Linked DNA regions of Homo sapiens. The protein of the gene in region 1 interacts with the protein of each later gene in a biochemical or structural test. Each region holds a gene or a part of one and is shown on either strand. Other genes may lie near its edges.

Region 1 (7,934 bases):
GGTGGCATGCACCTGTAATCCCAGCTACTTGGGAGGCTGAGGCAGGAGATTTGCTTGAACCAGGGAGTTGGAGGTTGTAGTGAGCTGAGATTGCGCCATTGCACTCCAGCCTGGTGACAGAGCGAGATTCCATCTTAAAAAAAAAAAAAAAAAGAAAGAAAAGAAAAGGTGGAAAATATAAAGACTTGGATAAGGAAGGTATTATCCTGGCCCTTACTATAAAATTCAGTCACTAAAGAAAGCAGCTAATAACCATCTCACTACCATAAAAGCAGAAATATACAATGTCACGCTATCCTGGATAATGAGGAGTCATAGAAATCCCCTACATACCCTTCACTGCTTTTGTGTTTTTCTGAAGTTAATGCAAACAGAGAAGCAAAACAACATTACCAGCAGTTTCAGAGGATGTGGGATTCACTTCTTGATCATTTCTAAATAATTTTCCACCTCCTCCATGCCTCTATGATTGCAACTGAAACTAAATTGCAACAATAATTAGAGACAATCAAGTAGTGTGGCAACGGAGCAAATGGACAGGTTCAGGCAAAGTTCTTTTCTTTAGAAGCCCACTCTGAAGACTTTCATCTTGGAGAGGAGAGCAGGAAAGGTGTGGAACAATAACAGGAAAGCAGACTCGACCAGACTCGACACGGCTCTCAAGTTGAAGTCTTCCACCGGTCCAGCACAATACACAGAGATGTTTCATCCCTTTCATCTCTCCTGTTCCAAATGACCTATGATGTGTGCCCCCCATACTTGAAATAAGAAGGCAATCTTCTAATTCTTACTATAGAATAAGTGTCCTAACTGATCGTGAATGCAAGAAATACTGAAGAAAAAATCTGTTTGACATAATCTCTTTTGATTAACACATGGAACATTTAGAAAGGAGCAGGTATGAGCCATAAGATTCCAGAAACTGAAGTGTTTTGTTTTGTTTCGTTTTTGTTTTTGTTTTTTGAGATGGAGTCTCACTCTGTCGCCAGGCTGGAGTGCAGTGGCGCGATCTCGGCTCACTGCAACCTCCGCCTCCCAGGTTCAAGCAATTCTCCTGCCTTAGCCTCCTGAATAGCTGAGACTACAGGCGTGCACCACCACACCCAGCTGATTTTTTTATTTTTATTAGAGACAGAGTTTCACAATGTTGGCCAGGATGGTCTCGATCTCTTGACCTCATGATCCGGCCACCTTGGCCTCCCAAAGTGTTGGGATTACAGGCGTGAGCCACCACACCTGGCCTGTTTTGTTTTTGAGACATGGTCTCACTCTGTTGCCCAGGCAGGAGTACAGTGGCACGATCTCAGCTCACTGCAACCTCCGCCTCCCAGGTTCAAGCGATTCTAGTGACTCAGCCTCTTGAGTAGCTGGGATCACAGGCAGGCACCACCACACCCGGCTAATTTTTTTTTGTATTTTAGTAGAGATGGGTTTTCACCATGTTGCCCAAGCTGCTCTTGTACTCCTGAGCTTAAGCGATCTGCCCACCTCGACCTCCCAAAGTGCTGGGATTACAAGCATGAGCCACCATGCCCAGCCTGAAACTGAACAGTTTATCATTATAACCCAGACCAATACAATCTGTTTAATTCACAGGAAGGTGTGGTGGCTCATGCCTGTAATCCTAGTACTTTAGGAAGCCAAGGCAGGAGAATCACTTGAGGCCAGGAGTTCAAGACCAGCCTGGGTAACACAGTGAGACCCTGCTCTATTTAATTAAAAGAAAAATTATAGTTTCAAAAAAAAAATCTACTGGCCAGGAGCGGTGGCTCACGCCTGTAATCCCAGCACTTTGGGAGGCCGAGGCGGACGGATCACCTGAGGTCAGGAGTTTGAGGCCAGCCTTACCAACATGGTGAAACCCCATCTCTACTAAAAATACAAAAATCAGCAGGGCATGGTGGCGTGCGCCTGTAATTCCGCTACTCAGGAGGCTGAGGCACAAGAATTGCTTGAACCCGGGAGGCAGATGTTGCAGTGAGCCGAGATTGTGCCACTGCACTGCAGCCTGGGCGACAGAGCAAGACTCCATCTCAAAAAAAAAAAAAAAATTAAATTAAATTAAATTTTCTAAAAATCTATTTAATTCACAATTTCTTCTCGTAAGGAAACATTTTGTAGTTGGCCAGAAGACAATATATGGGTTGAGAGATCTTTCATCTTTAAAAGAAAAATTAAAAGAAAGGTAAACGACTGTTACAATTAGCCAAAATCTAACCTAAACCCCAGTCAAAACTGATACACATTTTCCCCATGCTTAAAACAGTGACAAAAACCTGTAAATCACTTTATTTGATAGAAAAGAGTTAACCTAAGTTAAGTAAATAAACCATCATTTCTTATGATGTAGCCAGTTCATAATACACAAATATGCAAAATAAAAATTTTTTTCAATCCAGCTAGTGATCAGTAGATTTAATAAGTCACCATTTTGTAACCACCAAATTCAGTTTGTTTGCTTGTTTGTTTTAAAAAAAAACTTTTAAAATGTTGATCCTCACTGAGGGCACATTTGCACTATTACAGGTACGTGTACTGATACATTGCTAAGAAAAGAGTAAATTGGTGCAGCCCTTTTGGAAAAAGTTGGCACCAGACATCAAGAATTCTAAAAATGTTTATACTCTGACATGTTCATGTCACCCTGAGAATATATCTTAAAGACCACAAAGTGTGTATAATTATGGCAACCTTATGTTCCAGATTTTCTAAGAAGGTGTTCACTGTAAATAATTGTGTTCTTTTCAATAAAGGCAAATCAGTAAGTTAGTAACTAAGTTTGAGAATAATGGAAGTCATCCATATCATAGAAAAACAAAGAAAACGGGTTCTGCATGGGGTCAAACATGCACAGAAGTGTTCTGGTTTCTGTTTGAAATGGAGAGTTGAGGAAAAAAACTCAAACTCACCACATATTAACTTTTTACAAGATGGAACTTGGTTCAATCCATTATTCCCTCCACAGTTGCTGAGCTGCCTCTGTAGGGCCCCAGGCACCATGCCTATTCTGGAGACATGGTGATGAAAAGGCAAATCTTTCTTAAATGCAACAGGCTCCTCTCCCCAGCCCGCAGCAGCACCCAGACATGCCAGTGCCCAGACCTTATTTTTCTTGTTGAATCTTCTCACCACCCACACACAGGTCTCCATGGTACAGCATGACAGCTCTTCCTATAATTCTGATATAAATCCTCCTTTTATCCAGAGTCTTTGGTCACAAACCGTAATACATACATGTGAAATGTTCCCAAATCTTGAGTAGACACTCAAGATTATGCCTGTGAGAAAACTCCTTTCCATGAAAACACAGAAGAAACTACTCTCTTTTCTTATCAAACCCCCGAAGTACCCACCAGGGCATTCGGCATGGGAAATCGGGTTAGAACTGCCGCAAGGCACTGCTCCCTCAGACAGCCCACCACCTGTGGCTGGCATAACGGCCCTGGACTTGCTGCCTGCTTTCCCTCTGTGCCACTAGGCACCCACCCCTGCAGTCACCCCAGCTCCCGAGGCATCACACCATCCACAGACCACAGGGTTAGTCCTCCTGAGGTCCCTCTGTGTGTTATGACACCACACCTAACCCGGCACAGAAACCAGGCTGAACACCCTGACAGTCTCCTGTGGCCCATGAAGATTGGGGGGGCCGCTGGGGGTTAGGGGAAGAGGAGAGATGGAAGGAAGTTACTAATTAAGAGTGATCTTGAAAGCCTCGGGTGCTAAGGGTCTTTTTTCTTTTTACCCCTGTCCTGAGTATTCCCTTATATCCTTCCCTCAAAGGCCAAAGCTAGAGACAGCAGATACGTTTTTATGCAATTGGACCTCAATGCTTCTCGAAATATGCGAATGAACAACTTTCTTGAATGTCTTACCCCACCACTCTTCCTCTACAGAGAAAGTGAAACCTCGTTTTTTTAATTCTTGCTGAAAACACTGCTATTTTAACTTGAAATTTGTTCTTTCTTGTTTTAGATAATGAATTAGTTCTACCTTTCCTGCTTTAGATAATCAATCTGGGAACTCAATGTAAAAATTACATCAAAGGCAAATAAAAAGTAAGGTATTTCAGAAGCTGAATAAGTAAAGGACATTTGCAGACGTCTCTTCCTTTTCATTTGAAAACTCACCTAAAAATTATTTTAAAATTCTCTGTTGACAACTTCCCTAATTGAAGCTAACTTCTTGAAAGGAACAAAAATAAGACATGCATTTGCTATAATGAACATGATAGACTCCAGCAACTTTCATTTTAAATGTTTATATAGAAATTATGCTTAAAGGCCAGGCACGGTGGCTCATACCTGTAATCCCAGCACTTTGGGAGGCTGAAGTGGGCAAATCACCTGAGGTCAGGAGTTTGAGATCAGCCTGGCCAACATGGTGAAACCTCGTCTCTACTAAAAATACAAAAATCAGCCGGGTGTGGTGGCACATGCCTGTAATCCCAGCTACTTGGGAAGCTGAGACAGGAGAATCACTTGAACCCAGGAGGCAGAAGTTGCAGTGAGCTAAGATCACGCCACTGCACTTCAGCCTGGGAAACAGAGTAAAACTCTGTCTCAACAACAAAAAAAAGAAATTATGCTTAAAAAGGAAGTTCATAATTGAATCACGGCAACTGCAGTCATTAGCCCCAAAATGATGACCATTACAGAGCAACAGGATGAACATACTCTCTGGAAAATCCCGCAAATACTCCCTTAAAGTGCATTATATGTGGTTTTCTGTTTACAACCCTGAACATTATTACACAGAAATATATACTGGCAACAGTACACACAAGCCAGGCGCAATGGCTCACACCTGTAATCCCGGCACTTTGGGAGGCTGAGGCGGGCAGATCATTTGAGGTCAGGAGTTCGAGACCAGCCTGGCCAACATGATGAAACCCCATCTCTACTAAAAATACAAAACAATTAGCTGAGCGTGGTAGCACACGCCTGTTGTCCCAGCTACTCAGGAGGCTGAGGCACGAGAATCGCTTGAACCCGGGAGGCAGAGGGTGCAGTAAGCCAAGATCGTGCCACTGGACTCCAGGCTGGACAACAGAGCGAGACTCTGTCTCAAAAAAAAAAAAAAAAAAAAGTACACACAGTATGCATGTTATAAAGAAAATGTATGCAAAATTTAATTTTTACGATTTTTTTCTTTTTCCTGAGCAGAATAGTATTTTCTTAAGTTAATGGTTTGTCTGGTGGGACTCCACAGTGCCATAAACAGTTTTTTTTTTTTTAAAAAAAGAAACCAATAGGCCAGGTGCAGTGGCTCACACCTGTAATCCCAGCACTTTGGGAGGCCTAGGCAGGGGGATCACCTGAGGTCGGGAGTTCGAGACCAGCCTGACCAACATGGAGAAACCCTGTCTCCAGTAAAAATACAAAATTAGCCAGGCGTGGTGACGCATGCCTGTAATCCCAGCTACTTGGGAGGCTGAGGCAGGAGAATTGCTTGAATCTGGGAGGCGGAGGTTGCGGTGAGCCGAGATCGCCCCATTGCACTCTAGCCTGGGCAACAAGAGTGAAACTCTGTCTCACAAAAAAAAAAAAATAAGGCCGGGCGCGGTGGCTCACGCCTGTAATCCCAGCACTTTGGGAGGCGGATGGATCACGAGGTCAGGAGATCGAGACCATCCTGGCTAACATGGTGAAACGCCGTCTCTACTAAAAATACAAAAATTTAGCCGGGTGTGGTGGCGGGTGCCTGTAGTCCCAGCTACTCAGGAGGCTGAGGCAGGAGATGGTGTGAACCCAGGAGGCAGAGCTGGCAGTGAGCCGAGATTGCGCCACTGCACTCTAGCCTGGGCAACAGAGCAAGACTCCGTCTCAAAAATAAATAAATAAAAATAAATAAATTAAATAAATAAACAAACCAGTAAAGATATATCCCACACAGGTGTAGTCTGAACCAAACTGTCCCTATCTAATGAATACAAAAGAGTACTGGAACTGAGAAAGCCTTTTTGTTGGTTTTTGAAATTGTCTTTAATTGGACAGAGAAACTCTAAGACTCTCTTTCTATAGCATATTATCAATGAGCTATGTTCCAAAAGTTTTTTAATACTAAAAGGTAGCCAGGAAATTACAATGCATTTCCCTCCAGAAAGAATTCTAAAGCCGGGCGCGGTGGCTCACACCTGTAATCCCAGCACTTTGGGAGGCTGAGGCGGGCAGATCACGAGGTCAGGAGATCGAGACCATCCTAGCTAACATGGTGAAACCCCATCTCTATTAAAAATACAAAAAAAAAAAAAAAGAAAGAATTCTAAAAACAGTGGTACCTGTCCTAGGCTGATTCACAAAACGTTACCAACTTACGCAGCAGGGACAGGGACAGGGACAGAGGAAGCACTGTTGAAAACAGCGCACACACAAAGTTAACACCACAAGAAATGTTTCTCATTATTCTGAAAATCAAATATTAAGGTTTAGGCTGGGCTTGGTGGCTCAGGCCTGTAATCCTAGCACTTTGAGAGGCTGAAGCAGGCAGATCAATTGAGGTCAGGAGTTCAAGACCAGCCTGGCCAACATGGGGAAACCCCATCTTTACTAAAAATACAAAAATTAGCCAGACATGATAGCATGTGCCTGTAGTAACCCCTACTCAGAAAGCTGAGGGAGAATCGCATGAACCCAGGAGGTGGAAGCTGCAGGGAGCTAAGACTGTGCCACCACACTCCAGCCTGGGTGACAGAACAAGACTGTCTCAAAAAAAAAAAAAAAAAAAAAAAGGGAAAAAAAATTAAGGTTTAAAAAGTTTATTTAGGGCCGGGCGTGGTGGCTCACGCCTGTAATCCCAGCACTTTGGGAGGCCAAGGCAGGTGGATCACTTGAGGTCAGGAGTTTAAGACCAGCCTGGCCAATATGGTGAAACCCCATTTCTACTAAAAACACAAAAATCAGCCGGGTGTGGTGGCAGGTGCCTGTAATCCCAGCTACTTGGGAGGCTGAGGCAGAAGAATCACTTGAACCCAGCAGGCAGAGGTTGCAGTGAACCAAGATTGCGTCACTGCATTCCAGCCTGGGCAACACAGTGAGACTCCATCTCAAAAAAAAAAAAAAAAAAAAAAAAGAAAGAAAAAGTTTAATTAGGCCTGGCACAGTGACTCAACCCAACACTTTCAGAGGCCAAGGCGGGAGGATGGTTTTAGACCAGCCTGCGCAACATAGTGAGACTCTGCAACTATTTAAAAAATAATAATAATAAAAAGTTTGTTTAAAAGAAAACAATGGAAGTTCTGAGGTGACGTCTGAACACGTCATGTTATATGCTTTATGAATCCATCACACACATTTCCTTTTACAATGTGGGATCTGGTCAAGGTAAATTCTCTGTGAAACCTATGAGGGAAATGGACAGTTCTGGAGACTAACACAAACCTTAAAGAACTTGGGAGTCTTATTCTTCATATGATCATCTTACACCATCAGGTACTTTTTGTGTGGTGACCCTCTGGGTGGGGAATCTTCAATCTTTTTAGTTCCTCCAAAATAAAAGGATGATATTTAAAACTGTAGAAAGGGGAACAGGCCAGGCGGGGTGGTTCATGCCTGTAATCCCAGCACTTTGGGAGGCTTAGGCAGGCAGATCACCTGAGGTCAAGAGTTTGAGACCAGCCTGGACAACACAGAGAAACCCTGTCTCTACTAAAAATACAAAATTAGCCAGGCGTGGTGGCGCATGCCTGTAATCCCAGCTACTCAGGAGGCTGAGGCAGGAGAATCGCTTGAAGCTGGGAGGCAGAGGTTGCAGTGAGCCGAGATTGCGCCATTGCACTCCAGCCTGGGCAACAAGAGTGAAACTCCATCTCAAAAAAAAAAAAAAAAAAAAAAAGAAAGGGGAAGAATAAACTTACAAACTTTCTCATCTTCGTGTGTGGCAGACAGAATAACAGCCCCTAAAGAAGTCCGGGTACTAATCCCCAGAACTTGTGAATA
Region 2 (4,742 bases), on another chromosome or scaffold:
GTGCCATTTATGCCTGCAAACCTTAGACCAAAGGCAACACAACTAATGTCATCTTTTCATTAAAGACTAATAGAAATTTAGAAATCATTGTGTTAAAGAGAGCTATAGAGAAACAATATGAAAGTCTTCCCTTACTAATCACCATGAATATTTCTCACCATAGGAATAACCACAACCCACCAAGTACCCATGTTGGCCCTGCCTACCCGTAACAAATTGTTCACACAACCTATTTTGTTTTATAGCTTCAAAGTGTGGCTTGACATTCAAATGGAAGGAACCACCTGAATTATATCTGCAAACAAAATGGAAATAGTTGTTGAATAGTTCCCCAAGCTTTACTAAGAAGCCTTAATACTCTGTAAACAAACAAACAAACAAAAAACAACCTTAGCATTAAGAAATAAAAACAAAAAACAAGAAGCAAGTTGTACTGCTAGAAACTTCTCTAAGATAAGAGGCCAGGCCAGTCAGTTTGGCCCAGCAAACATGTGGGTACTTCTCCACCTAGGGAAGCCACTGAAGATGAGTTTGACCTGTGGTGACCTGACAGAGAGAACATTCAGATCCTCAGATTGCACCCTGATGCCCTGGTTTAGGAAAGCAGTGCTTTAACCTTTTGCCCCTGGAAATTACTGATTCTTTCTGTGATTAGCAGATACCAGAAGGGAAATTATTTAGGATTGGCAATGTAAAGAGTATTGAAGGAACAACAAATAACAATAGCAGAAATAACAGTGTGACATAAAGTGCCCTTCCACCTATTTTTCTTTGGTTTGCAACACCAGCCTGTAGACTTCCAGTTTTTCTTAAATTGAAGAGCTCCAGACACTTTTGAGCAGGGTTTGTGAATAGCTTTGAATGCTTTCCTTTGGCTTTTCGTGAAGACATATTTCCCCAGCCTTTCAACTGTAAACTCCTTTAGTACCATTGAAACTTAAGGCAAAAAAGATCCCTGGGATTACTTAGCCAAGGCTTAAATTTATTTTTCAAAGTCAAGAACATTAGCCTAGAAGTTTTTGCTTTGCTAGTTAAAGCTTACTTTGCAGAGCTTCCCAAAGTGAAAGGGAAACTGAACTTCACAATTTTGCACCTGGCTTTCTGGAGCCCCATTGCCTGCTCATTCGTGTTTTTCCCCCTGTAAATTATTTTGCTTTTGACCAGGTTGTGCTAGAAAGTAGGGCTGCTTCTGTGAGTTCTCAGCCTAGGCTGTGGCCACTAAGACGTGGGTGGGGGGATAGACAGGAGTGAGAGGGAGAGTGGGTGACACTTTCCGTGACACTTAATGTAGGAAGACATGGGCTTCTCTCTCTTGGCCTCAAGCCACTTTTCTGGTCCAAAGAATATTGGGAAAACTGGATTACTTTCAGTATATTTCTTGAGACCGGGTCATCTCTGAAATGCATTTGGGGTAGTTTCCTGGGGTCCAAGGGCCAATTCCTATACCCAGTCCTGCAGTGTCTGTGAGCTGTGGAATGAGAGAGAAAACCATGGCTGCTCAGGAAGGAAGTGGAGAATCTCTCAGCACACGTAGATCCAAATCTGTGGCACCTGCTAAAGATTAGGATTTGGAGAGGACTCCTCTTTGGGGTTGTGAAGAGGACCTTTTCCCTCTGTTGTTAGCCTGTAGATCCAGAACGGAGCCTGATGTGATGCCTTCACTGGTTGATATATTGCAAATAGACACTCTGAGCCCTGCATTGCAAGGGCGTCTTTTGCTTTAAAGAATTCTTAGTTTTGCCACAACAGCTCAAATCTCAGAATAGGATCAAAGGCCTAGAAAGACTCCTAAAGTATAGGATTACAAAGACTCCAGGAAGCGTAAGAAAGAGATTGTGTTTGGAGTCAGATTTCAATGTGAAACCCATGCCTTACATTTACACAGCACTTTGTAGTTTGCAAATTGGTGTGTTTTCAGCCCCCTCCCGCTGCCCCATGCTCTGAGATGATTGTGGATTATTACAGTGAAGTGCCTGGCCCGGAGCCCCCAGTGATGAAGCAGGAACTTGAGTCTCAGGACTCCCAGCGGCTCTCTGCCCATTTCCTCCTCTCCGCCCCCCACCTCGCTTCACCTGTTACCTTGTGAAGTTGCTGTTGGCACATAGCCCACTAGGAAACCAAGAAGTTTGACTGGGAGCGTGTGTTTCATTGCACTGGGCTTAGCATACGGCTGGCCCTGGTGGCTGTTTGGCTAAATTCTCCATTTGAAACCTAAAGGGCCCTCTCTGTGCTTGAGCACAGTCTCCTCCTAGTGGTCCTGCCTCAACCTGCTGGCGGGCTGTCTATGGATTGGGGTTTCACCTAATCATGCTGTGTTTCCTTTCTTTTCTTTCTGTACATTAGACTACTTGGGAGGTGCTGTGTGATCCTTGGATGAAAAACATATATTTAAAGAAATGGAGAGTGTTTATTTTGTTTGCTTTTTGAGGCATGTGCTGTCAAATGTTAGAGACCAAACTTAGTGATTAGAGGTTGGTCCTTTGACCTTCTTCTCTTAATTGCTTTTCATGTAATCATGATAATTTACTCAGGTAGCACTCCAGTCACAAACAATGTCACAGAGATGAAACAGATTCAAAGAAAAAATATTTTTAAGTCTTTTGAAAAGAAGTGCTATTCAAATTTAAGACATGTTTAAATTCATAGGTACATTATCTCTTAGTAAGAAATACTTTTTTTTTTCTTTTTTTAGACAGAGTCTTGCTCTGTTGCCCAGGCTGGAGTGCAGTGGCACGATTTTAGCTCACTGCAACCTCTGCCTCCCTGGTTGAAGTGATTCTCCTGCCTCAGCCTCCCGAGTAGCTGGGACTACGCCCGGCTAATTTTTATATTTTTAGTAGAGACCGGGGTTTACCATGTTGCCCAGGCTGGTTTCAAACTCCTGACCTCAGGTGATCTGCCTGCCTCTGCCTCCCAGAGTGCTGGGATTACAGGTGTGAGCCACCACACCTGGCCGAAAGACAGTATTTTGATATAGCCACATACATGATTTAATGAGTAATGTTAAGTACAGAAAAGCTGCCATATCCACATAGTTTTAGGGGGCATTTCTTCTTCAGTCTAACAAGAATATGATATCCAATTGTGGTTTTCCAATTTATTTCTCTTCCAATTTCTTTTGTATACCTCACAGGAGAAATTGAATCCTAGAACTGGGAGATGACTGCCCTGCCCAGGGTTTTGTAATACATAATTGAAAATAAAAGTCCCTGAAACTAAATGTTTGCAGCCTGTATGAAATGGACTGTGGAAGGGGGATAATTTCTCTCCTCACAGAAAGCCACTCGTCTCCTTGAATGAGGCATTGAGCAGACACACGTTTCTCTGTGTCGTGGGGCAGGAAGCAATTCCCTTGCCTCTTCAGCACATCTCAGTTCTTTCCCACATGACCCCAGAACCACATAGAAAACATTGAAAATAATGGATTCTTCATTGTATTTGAATTTTTTTTTTTTAACCTTTAGCCCAAAAGGGAAGTGTGCCTCGTGGAAAGAGCAAATGCCGTAAAATAGAAACCAGGAGTTTTAATCGCCATATATTTTAATGTGCTTGCATGATGGGAATGTGACTTTTAGCACTGCATGGTGTTTGGGGGCAAGATATTAATGTGGAAATCTTAGCTTAAGTTTTACTGTGCTCTCATCCTGTGTCAGCTACCCCTCTAAACTGAAAAAGAGGCATGGCTCATTTCTCTCCTGCTTTATGTTTTTGAGGTTGACTTGTAAGATAAAAATAAAAATAAGAAAAAAATATATCTAGGCAAATGACATGAAAAAAAAGTTGAAATATACTACTGGTGTTCATTTTTGTCCTGCAGTGTTGCTTTCTCAAAGAAATAAACATGTGGCTGGAAGTGTTTAATGGCTGCGTTTTGATCGTCTACAACAAGGTTACAGTGCCCTCTGGTGGCAGTCATCAAAATCGCTTCTAGACTTGTTTTTATTTTTAAATAAAAGATCTAATTATATTGGAAATCTGTTTCAACAATAATCGATGTGGTCTTTTCCAGTGGTTCTCAAGTTACAGGTTTATTAATACAATAATATTTAGATTTTTCAAAAATTGCCATTGGACCACTAAATTTGACTTGCACATTGTATTACTTATTATTTCTAGGCACCCACATTTTGTTTAAAGAATTTTTAAAATTTGCATATTATAAAAGTTACAAAATGTGGTACACAAGCTGCTTAAAACATATGAGATATTTATTTGAAAATGAACAAAGAAAATAATGAAATAGCCTAATAAATTGCCTTTCTTTGGATCCACTGATCAGAGGGAATCAGCCTGCATTTGAACTGATTCATGCTCCTTGACTGCTGTCTACACACACAGTTTTCATTTTGTTCCTGACTCTCTCCCAAGTCTCACCTCACAAGCCAAGCTCCACCTTCTGTCTTCTTTGTCCTGCCACCACCAAATATTTCTAGGCTCCTACATGGAAGCAGGAAAAATTATTTTAGACCAAAGGTATTAGTAAAAGGTATAGGCACCATGCGTTTCCTGATTTCGGGAACAATCTCATATTATTTCCTATTCCTGATATAACAAATTACCACAAATAGAGCAGCTTCAACAAATTTGTGAACTCACAGTTCGAGGAAGGTTGCACTCCTTGTGGAGGCTCTGGGGGAGAATCCATTTCTTTGCCCACTCCCTGGGCTACAGGTGCCCCACTTCGCTTGTCTCTGAGCTTCTTCCTCCAGCTTCGGTGTCAGCAACTTGCACCTGGTGCCTTC
Region 3 (8,765 bases), on another chromosome or scaffold:
CACTGGGGGTGCTGACCTAGAGAAGGGGCTGTGGGCCTCACCAGCAAACCCTGTTCTCAGTGGGCTCTCAGGGGCCCAGCCTAACTCCCCTCTGGGCCAAAGTCCTCTAGGCCTAAGGGGGTCGACAGCTGTGGTAGCCACAAGAACCGCTCGACTGGGGAGAAGGGCAAGAAGGAAAAGAGCAGAGACAGGATAAAAAGGAAGGGGACAAAAAATGGGATGGGATAACAAAGAAAGGAGGAAGGAAGCCCAGCATGGTGGCTCACGCCTGTAATCCCAGCATTTCTGGAGACCAAGGCAGAAGGATAGCTTGAGCCCAGGAGTTCAAGACCAGCCTGGACAACTTAGACCCCATCTCTCCAAAATGAAACTTAGCTGGGCATAGTGGTGTGCACCTGTAGTCCCAGCTACTCAGGAGGCTGAGGCAGGAGGATTGCCTGAGCCTGGAGAAGTCAAGGCTGCAGTGAGCCATGTTCACGCCATTGCACTCCAGCCTGGACAACAGAGAGACCCCGTCTCCAAAAAAAAAAGAAAGGAGGAAGGGGAAGACATCTTTATGGGACACAGCTATCCTCAACCCAAGAACCCAGGAGGTGTGAGGCATGTCCTACGCCCCAGTGGCTGAGGACACTTCAAGAAGTGGGCAGGCACATGGCCAAGGCCCTGGTCTGGGGCCTCCGAAGTCCAGGACGCCCACTCTCTGAATTGGCGCCCTGGACTCTGAACTTCACATCATCTGCAGATATGTGCAGCCACTGTATGCCAGAGAGCTGTCCCAAAGCCCTCAAACAACTTTCAAGCCATCAATTACTCCTGGGAGACCACTGAAGGGGAATCAGCCTAGATCCCCTACACCCCACAGCCAGGGGAGACCCAGGGCTGTGTCTATCAGGGTTGCCAAGAGTTGACAGGAGAGGGGCAAGCAGTGACTAGAGCAGAAGCTGTGCAAGGACAGAAAGGAGATCACCTGCTCCTCTGCCTGCTTCGGGGTGGAGAACACTTGGGTGGTACAGGTGCCATCCCATTGTGTCGGCTCAGCTAGGGACCAGTCACCCAGATAACACCTGTGCCCACCCCCTCTCCCTCCTCACCAACCCACACCCCTGGTTGGGGTCCCAGCTGGCCAGGGCCTGGCAGCTGCTGGCTGCAGCAGGGGTGGGAGGGGTGGGCGGAGCCCATGCAGGTGGTTGGGTCTGGAAAGAGAGCTCAGCCACCTCCTCACTGAGTCAGCCCATTGAGCAAGAGTCCAAAAGTCCTTCCGAGTTTCTGTCTGGAGCCTATCCTGCCTCCTCAGAGCGCGGGGCCGCAGGGTGGGGGAGGTGAGCTCCACCCCTCCTCAGGCAGCCAACACGACAGAAAAGTCGGCCTTGGGAAAGCTGGTAACAAAGCAAGGCCAACAGGGAGAGGGGACTGCTGTCAGCCAGGTCCCTGGTGATACCTCTCCACCCATCAAGATGATAAGAGCAGGACGATCAAGAACTTTTATAGACCTACATAAACAACACAGCAACCACAGGCAGCAACAATCAAACACAAAGCCCTGAAAGCAACATGTACCTTGCACTTTGGAATTTCAATTATTCAAGGAAGTCTAGAGAATGCATGGGAGAATTATTTTTTTTAACTTTATGGGAGGCCTTTGCAAACATGCCAAAGTTCTGAAAGATTGGCCATATATTCTGGAACCCCACCCCGCAGGATACTTAGGATGACTATTAGCTCTGCACTGTCCATCTGTCCCAAACTCTATCCCTCGTAGAGATAAGAACAGGACAGAGGAGCAGGCAGCTCACCCCCACCCCTTCCCACCCACCCTAGCCATCCTCCCACCCTCCCCAGAAGCCAAGAGCAGGGTGCAGCCAGAGGTAGGAAGCAAGGTGGTCTCAGCTAGCATGCTGAGTGTGTCTGCTTTGCACAGAGGAGGAAGTAATGTGGGAGGGGAAGCCATTAATTAGTCACGCTTGCTAATTAATTATTAACCACTAAGTAGTTGCCTTGGAAAGTTGGGCCAACTCAGCCCCTGCTTCTCAGGGGCTCTGAGACTGTTGCAGAGGAGTGGGGACTTACAGGGACAGAGGGGTACCTTAGCACGCCTCCCGTCTCCGCCAGCTTCCCCTTCTCCCAGCTCAGCCCAGTCTCTGACTGCCAGCATCAAAGGGGAGGCACTGATCTTCCCAGTGGTCCCAGCCTGATGCTGGGTCCTCTCTGGGATGACTTGCTGCCCCAAGTAGAGCAAAGAGAACAGCGTCAGATGCCCAGAGCCCCTGGCTGTGGGCTCAAGGCTTGGTTCTGCTGCGGTCTGTACTACCTTGGGGAAGTCACCAGGCCTCCCGGGGCTTCCTTTCCTCCTGTGCACAATAAAGACTGCACAGTGTCTAAAGCCTTTCCAGGTCCCCGGTCTGAATCTCGACCTCTTGGTCAATGTCAGGCCAAGAAGGAAACCCGTACAGCCACATAGCGGACCCTCACATCTGCCTCTGCCGAGGCCGCCCTCCACAGCTGTAGGGAACCTGCCCCAGAGTCAACAGGTGAGAGCGAGGGCACCACCCCCACCCAGGAGGCTATGAGTCTTAAGTGTCTAAGGCATTGCTTTTAGATAAAGGCAGTTCAGGTAACATCCCCACCCCCTCCCTAACACAGGGATCCCTCCTGGGCCTCTTCAAGCTCCAGTACTGGGCCCTAAAAAGCAGCCCACCCGGCTGAACAATGTCCCCAGAAAAAGGCAGAGGAGACCAGAAGGGGCACAGAGGGAGGGAGGGAAACTCCAGAGCACCTTCCCTCAGGCCGGGCCATGGGGGATCCTCCTCTATCCCAAGTGTGTCCCCCAAAGCCAGGTCTCAGGCCTGCCTGTCCCAGCTCATCTCTGCTTGCTCTCCCTCTGGTGGAAACTAAGGCCTAGGCAACCACAAGAACAGGCTCCCGTCCAAGCCCACCAGCACCCCTCTGTCATCCCTACACACCAGACATAGGCTGGCGGGGGTGGGGGTCGGAGGGGGGTGATGGCCACTGCTTGGGCTCCTCCACTCCCAGGCCAGCCTGCTCTCAGCCCCAAAGACCCATTCCACCTCCCCCGCCCTCACCTGCTTCTGGGCTTTAGTCCAGGAGTTGAAAAACAGCCCCTGCTTCCAGTCAGGGGGCTCAGGGCCCTCACATGTCGCCTCAGGGTCTCCCAAGCCACAGGCCTGTGCTCTCTCTCCAGCTGACGGAGCTGCTGGCCGTCCGTCCGTCTCGGCTCACCTGCCTACCTTGCCGTCCCTCCCAGGCTGCCGGGCCAGGGGAACCAGGTTACTTGTTATGACTTGAGTCAGAGGGGAGGAGCAGGTGAGCAAGTCCTTCCCTGAACTAATCCCGTGCAACTGGTGCCAGCAGGCAGCTCCTGGGCCTCTGCACTTCCGGGGGGCAGGAGGGTAGCAGGGAAAAAGGGGCTCCCATGGAGGAATCCCCAAAGAAGACAACAACAAGAGTCATGTCTTCATGGCCTCAAGAGACCCTAGTACAACATTCTGAGCTGTGAGGTACCTGCGTGCCCTCCTGTCCTGACCCTGGCTCTCCCTGCCTTCCTTTGACCTCAGTTTCTCTTTCCAGAAATTGAGGCCTGTTAAGCACCCCGGAAGCAAGGTGAAATGTCCACTGTCCATGGAAAAAACAAGCAGGACATTTACAAACTGACAGGGATGGGTCACTGCTCTTCCCCACATATGGAAATGAAGACCAAGGCCTGGGTTTTATCTCTCCCGAGTGAGGATTTTAAAACCTCAGGCAAGGCAGCTGGAATTCCAATATGCAGAAGTTCTAGAATCCTAGAGAGAGAGGATCAGGCTGTTCTTTTTATCCCAGACATTGTCCCCCAAGGGTATCGAGGCCATCACTTCTCTGTTGATTATTTACATCCATCCCCCAGCAACGCATGTTCATGGGGCACTGACAGGCACTGACCTGAGCCCAAGTCCTGTTTCCTACTCCACAGGAGGTCCACTGTGACCCCAGACCCTAAGTCCACTCCCCAAATGCAAGGAGCCAGAGACCAAAATGGAACTTATTTCCTATAAAAAATAAGCCTCAAGATCTCCCATCCCACCGACCCCCAAGCAAATGGGAAACTGGAATCTAGCCTATTTCAAGGCGGAAGCAGAGCTAACGCTGACTGTTGCCTGGCCTGTCCCCAGCAGGCTGCACCCCTCAAGTCTTCATCTTACCACCTCCCTTTCCCCCCACTCTCTGATCTTCCCACCATTCCCCCGACCCAGATTCCAGTGCCTCAATACATGTCTGGATTGCTTCCCCTCCCCCAGCCCCTAAAAAGTCCTGTCCCCACTCCCTACCCCCAAGTGCAGGGATGACAGAGGAAGTTTGCTTTCACCAGGCATCTCCTGTGGAGCGGAACTCATGGGGCTGGAGTCCCCCAGCATCCCCCACTGCTCCGGTACACACACCCAGCACACCTTCACATTCCTGTACACACCCTTTTTCCAAACAATGCTAGCCCCAGAGTGCTCCAGGCTGACCACCTCATTTTCTGCCCAGGCTGAGGCTGAGGGGCCCTAAGAGGGGACAGTTCTTCCTCCCCCCGCCCCATTGGGAGCTTGTTCTCTGGGTCTCCCAAAGAGCCTGCAGCCCTGCCCTTCCCCAGTCCTCCGTGACACACCGTCCCTCCCCATAGAGGCTTGGCACTTTCTTACAAAGTCAAACAGAGAGGGGTTGACTCTGGGCATAAGCGGCCCTTCCTCCACCTTGCCCATCTCCAGCTCCAGGTGGGGGTTGGTGGAAGTTTCTACCAGCTGTGAATTGGCTCACAGTTCACATTTCTTGAGCATAAAATAAAATTAAGAAGATCACTAAAAAAGTCAATTATATGAAATAAAGTTCTAAAAATATAAAAACATAGCAATATATATGCTTCTTTATTAACATTAAGCAGGGTCTAGCAGTGGGTAATTTCACACAAGGGCTGAGTGTAAACAACATTTCAAGACTGCTGTGACTGCAGTGTGATATGAAACTATGAATTCTATTAATGGCAAAGTCACAGGTACTGCCAATGCTACTGTGATTTGTTGTCTTCATAACTAAAGGTGATGTTAAAATCTGTTAAAGGTTGGTGAAAAACAATGATATCTTTTTTTGCCTCACCTAGTTTACACATCCTCTGAATTCCATCTACAGATGCCTAATGCCAATGAACCCAGTTAAGAATCCCTGCCCTCAGGTAATCCTCCATCTCTGACTTCAGGGGAGGTTAGTACAGATGCTCAATCTCACTGTTTGCATTGATCCTTTGGAATTCTCAAAAACACCTTGCTCCCCCAAATTCACGCTCAATATTTCCCAACCTTGCAGAATCTGAGGTTTGGAAGGGAGCTGGCTAACCAAACCTCCTGCCAAGAACCCCGGGGAGCCATCCTTGGAGCTCTCTGATGGCCATGTCATTCAATTCAAAATACCAATGGGGGAGGTGGGCACTCCAGAGGCCAGCTGGGAATCTGAAACAGCTCCCCACTCCAGTCAGGCCGGGGAGTCAGGGGACTGATGCCCCAGCCCCAAACCCCAGAGTGCCGTCCAGACCACCAGTTGGTGAGGAAGTGGTATTTCCTTGCAAAACATTATAGTACTTGGAATCTGATCTTTGCAGACAAGAGCCCTTCCCCAGGGAAGAGAAACTGGACCTCTTCAGTGTTTTCGTTTCCTGAGGAAAAGTCCCGAGTCAGAAAACTCTTCCCCAGCGCTGTAGCCATCCACTCTCCATTTTTTTTAAAAAAAAGTTCCTTCTTTTAGGGTCTTCTGATAACACCAGATTGGAAGTTCTTTAAAGCAAGGGCCTCGTCCTACCATCTTCACATCCCCAACAGCCCCCAGCAAAGTAGTCTCAGGCACTGCTAAAATCTTACTTCAAGAATTAAGGAATCAATGGCCAGCGCTAGAGACAACAGTGAAAAAAGGAAGAAGTGAAATAGCCCGGGACCCTCCAGGCAAGAGGGGTAGGAGATGGTTCCTTCACTGTTTTCTTACTCGCGTCTGCTCCCTGCTCACTAGGAAAGGTGTTCGCCTCCACTAAGCAAAGGTGAAGTGGGCTGGGACAGGGGAACTCCAAGCCAGCTTGGAATGCGCCCTGAAATGAGACCTCTAGGCTTTCTCTAAAAAGCCCCTTTGTCCTGTCCACCCTGCTCCCCTCCCCCACTGCGCCCTCCACATCCAGGCTGGCCCGAGACTTTGCTCCTTTTGTTTGGCTGCTTTCTGGCTTCCCGGAACCTGGCCAGGAAGATCCACAGGCACGAAGAAGGTCGAAGGAGAAAGGTTGAGGGACTGGAAATGTGCATTTTTGGTAGGAACTCAGAATTCCTGCCCCTTTGAAAAAATTACCCCATTCCCTGTAGGGCACCCTCCGCTAAGGCTGAAGACCGTGGGTTCAGGGGCCCGATCCCCCGCCCCAGTTCACCCGCACTGGGTGCCCCGAAGTTTTCCCGCTTACCTGTCCCATGGAGCTCTGGCGCCGCCCGCCTGCCCCTGCGCCCTCCACTCCAGCCTCGCAGCTTCAGGACCTGTTTGTCCAGGCCATCTTCCCTCCCCCCGAGCCTCCCTGCGGCCTGCCCTCCCCGGAGGTATTTCATTTAACTTCGGCATTTGCAGCATCCCAAATGTTAAAGATCCCAAGACATCTGTCCCCTGGGGCATACCAAGGCCCAGAGGAAAGAGGGGAAGACGCAAGAAGGGACTGAAGAGTCCGATCCAAGAGTCGGGACGGGGCCGCACGCGGGAGTGACGACGTACCCGCAGGGGTGAGCGAGCTGCGGGAGCAGCCGCTCGAGGGGCGAGGCTGTCCCCTTTGCCCCGCTTTCGGACGCCCGCGCGGTGGGACACCCCTGGCGCCGCCAGTTTCCGCAGCCCAGGCGGGACGAAGCTTCTCTCTTGGTCCCAGTGCCGCCTTTCATTCGCGCGCTCTGGCCTGGCTGGGGCCAGTTTTCATTCCTGGAGACCCCTAAGTGGAAGAATGAAAGGAGCCTGCGGAAGGGCGCTCCCCCGACCCTGTCCTCCCCGCAGGCGCCCTCCCCCTCGCTGTGCGGCGCTGCGGGTCGCGCGGGGATGGCCCCTCTCCCCGGCCCTGGCCCCGGCCCACTCCCACTCCTCCCGCCGGGCCCGCTGGCTGAACTCCGGCTGGCTGAAGGGAAGGAGCACCCTCCCGGCGAGCGCCTCCTGCTGCCCGCTGCGAGCTGCTGTGTCCCCGTTCATCCATTCATTCACTTCCCGGTTTTCAGTTGTTCAATAAACATTTATTGAGCACCTACTAGTGCCCAGCACGATGGATCAAAGCTCAAGCCCCATTCACTGGAGGATTCTCCAATCTAGACGAGTGATGAAGCAGCACAGTACCTGAAGTAAGGGCTAGGACCCCGGGCAAGAAGAGGGAAGGCTGACCCAGGCTGAGCCTCGGCAAAACTTGGCCAGAGGAAGCAATACCAGAAAATAAGAGAGGGACTTGAAACAGCAGTGACAGGTGTACAAAAGCACAGCAGCAAGGGAGCACAGCAGGTTCCAGGAGCTGCAGGGAGGTTAGGGTTTGGGATGAGGAAGGAGTAAAGGGAAAGAACATGGAAGAGAGACGAGGCTAATTCGTCAGTCAGTGGCTCATCCAGAAGCAGGGCAGCCAGACGCAGAGGCTCACGCCTATAATCCCAGCACTTTGGGAGGCCCAGGCCAGAGGATCGACTGAGGTCAGGAGTTGGAGATCAGCCTGGGCAACATTGTGAAAACCTGTCTCTACCAAAAAATAAAGAAATTGGCCAGGAGTGGTGGCACGCACCTGTAGTCCCAGCTACTTGGGAGGCTGAGGTGGGAAGATCACTTGAGCAGGGAGGCGGAGGTTGCAGTGAGCCAATATCCCGAGACTACACTCCGGCCTGGGAGACAGGGCAAGACCTTGTCTCAAAACAACAACAACAACAAAAAACCCACAACGAACGGCCAGGCGCGGTGGCTCACGCTTGTAATCCCAGCACTTTCGGAGGCCAATACGGACGGATCGCCTGAGGTCGGGAGTTCAAGAATGGCCTGGGCAACATGGCAAAACCCCATCTCTACTTAAAATACAAAAAAAATTAGCGAGCATGGTGCTGGGAGCCTGTAGTCCCAGTTACTCAGGAGGCTGAGGCATGAGAATCACTTGAACCCATGCAGCAGAGGTTGCAGTGAGCCAAGATCACTCCATTGCACTCCAGCCTGGGTGACAGAGCGAGACTCTGTCTCAATTAAAAACACACACACACAACAAACAAACAAACAAAAGTAAGGCAACTCCATGTGGTTGTCCAGGTTGTGCACTATACTAAGAGGGAAGGTTCACCATTCTCCACCCACCTCGCCCTATGTTTGGTCAGAGCTGTATCTGCCTAGAGAGGGTGGCTTTTTCTAATTTGTACAAAGGCATTATATGAGGTAAGATGACTAAGAGCCTTGTGGGCTAGGTGAGGATTTAAGATTTTTATACTGAAGTTGAAGAGAAGCTACTTGAATTAATCAGCACTCTCTGAGAAACAGAACCAGTAAGATGTGTATGTATAGATAGCTATATCTAGAGAGAGAGAATGCAAGAGAGAGATTGATTGATTTTAAGGAACTGGCTCATTGGATTGTGAAAGCTGGCATATCCAGAATCTGCAGGATAGACTCTCAGGCTGGAGATCCAGGGAAGAGCTGGAGTTCAAGTTCGAAGCAACCTGCTGGCAGGATTCATTCTTGCTCCAGGGAGATCAGACTTTGTTCCAACCAGGACT

The links.
Region 2: the proteins of CYTH1 (region 1) and IPCEF1 form a complex in vitro, tested with the Homo sapiens proteins (one study listed by BioGRID).
Region 3: the proteins of CYTH1 (region 1) and INAVA form a complex in vitro, tested with the Homo sapiens proteins (one study listed by BioGRID).

Annotation. Positions count from the first base shown.
Region 1 is NC_000017.11:78,771,594-78,779,527, forward strand, and holds part of CYTH1 (cytohesin-1), read right to left. Parts: intron 1-7,934. UniProt on the Homo sapiens protein: Promotes guanine-nucleotide exchange on ARF1, ARF5 and ARF6. Promotes the activation of ARF factors through replacement of GDP with GTP.
Region 2 is NC_000006.12:154,153,728-154,158,469, reverse strand, and holds the end of IPCEF1 (interactor protein for cytohesin exchange factors 1), read left to right. Parts: 3' UTR 1-3,974; downstream 3,975-4,742. UniProt on the Homo sapiens protein: Enhances the promotion of guanine-nucleotide exchange by PSCD2 on ARF6 in a concentration-dependent manner.
Region 3 is NC_000001.11:200,889,403-200,898,167, reverse strand, and holds the start of INAVA (innate immunity activator protein), read right to left. Parts: upstream 3,269-8,765; 5' UTR 3,081-3,268; intron 1-3,080. UniProt on the Homo sapiens protein: Expressed in peripheral macrophages and intestinal myeloid-derived cells, is required for optimal PRR (pattern recognition receptor)-induced signaling, cytokine secretion, and bacterial clearance.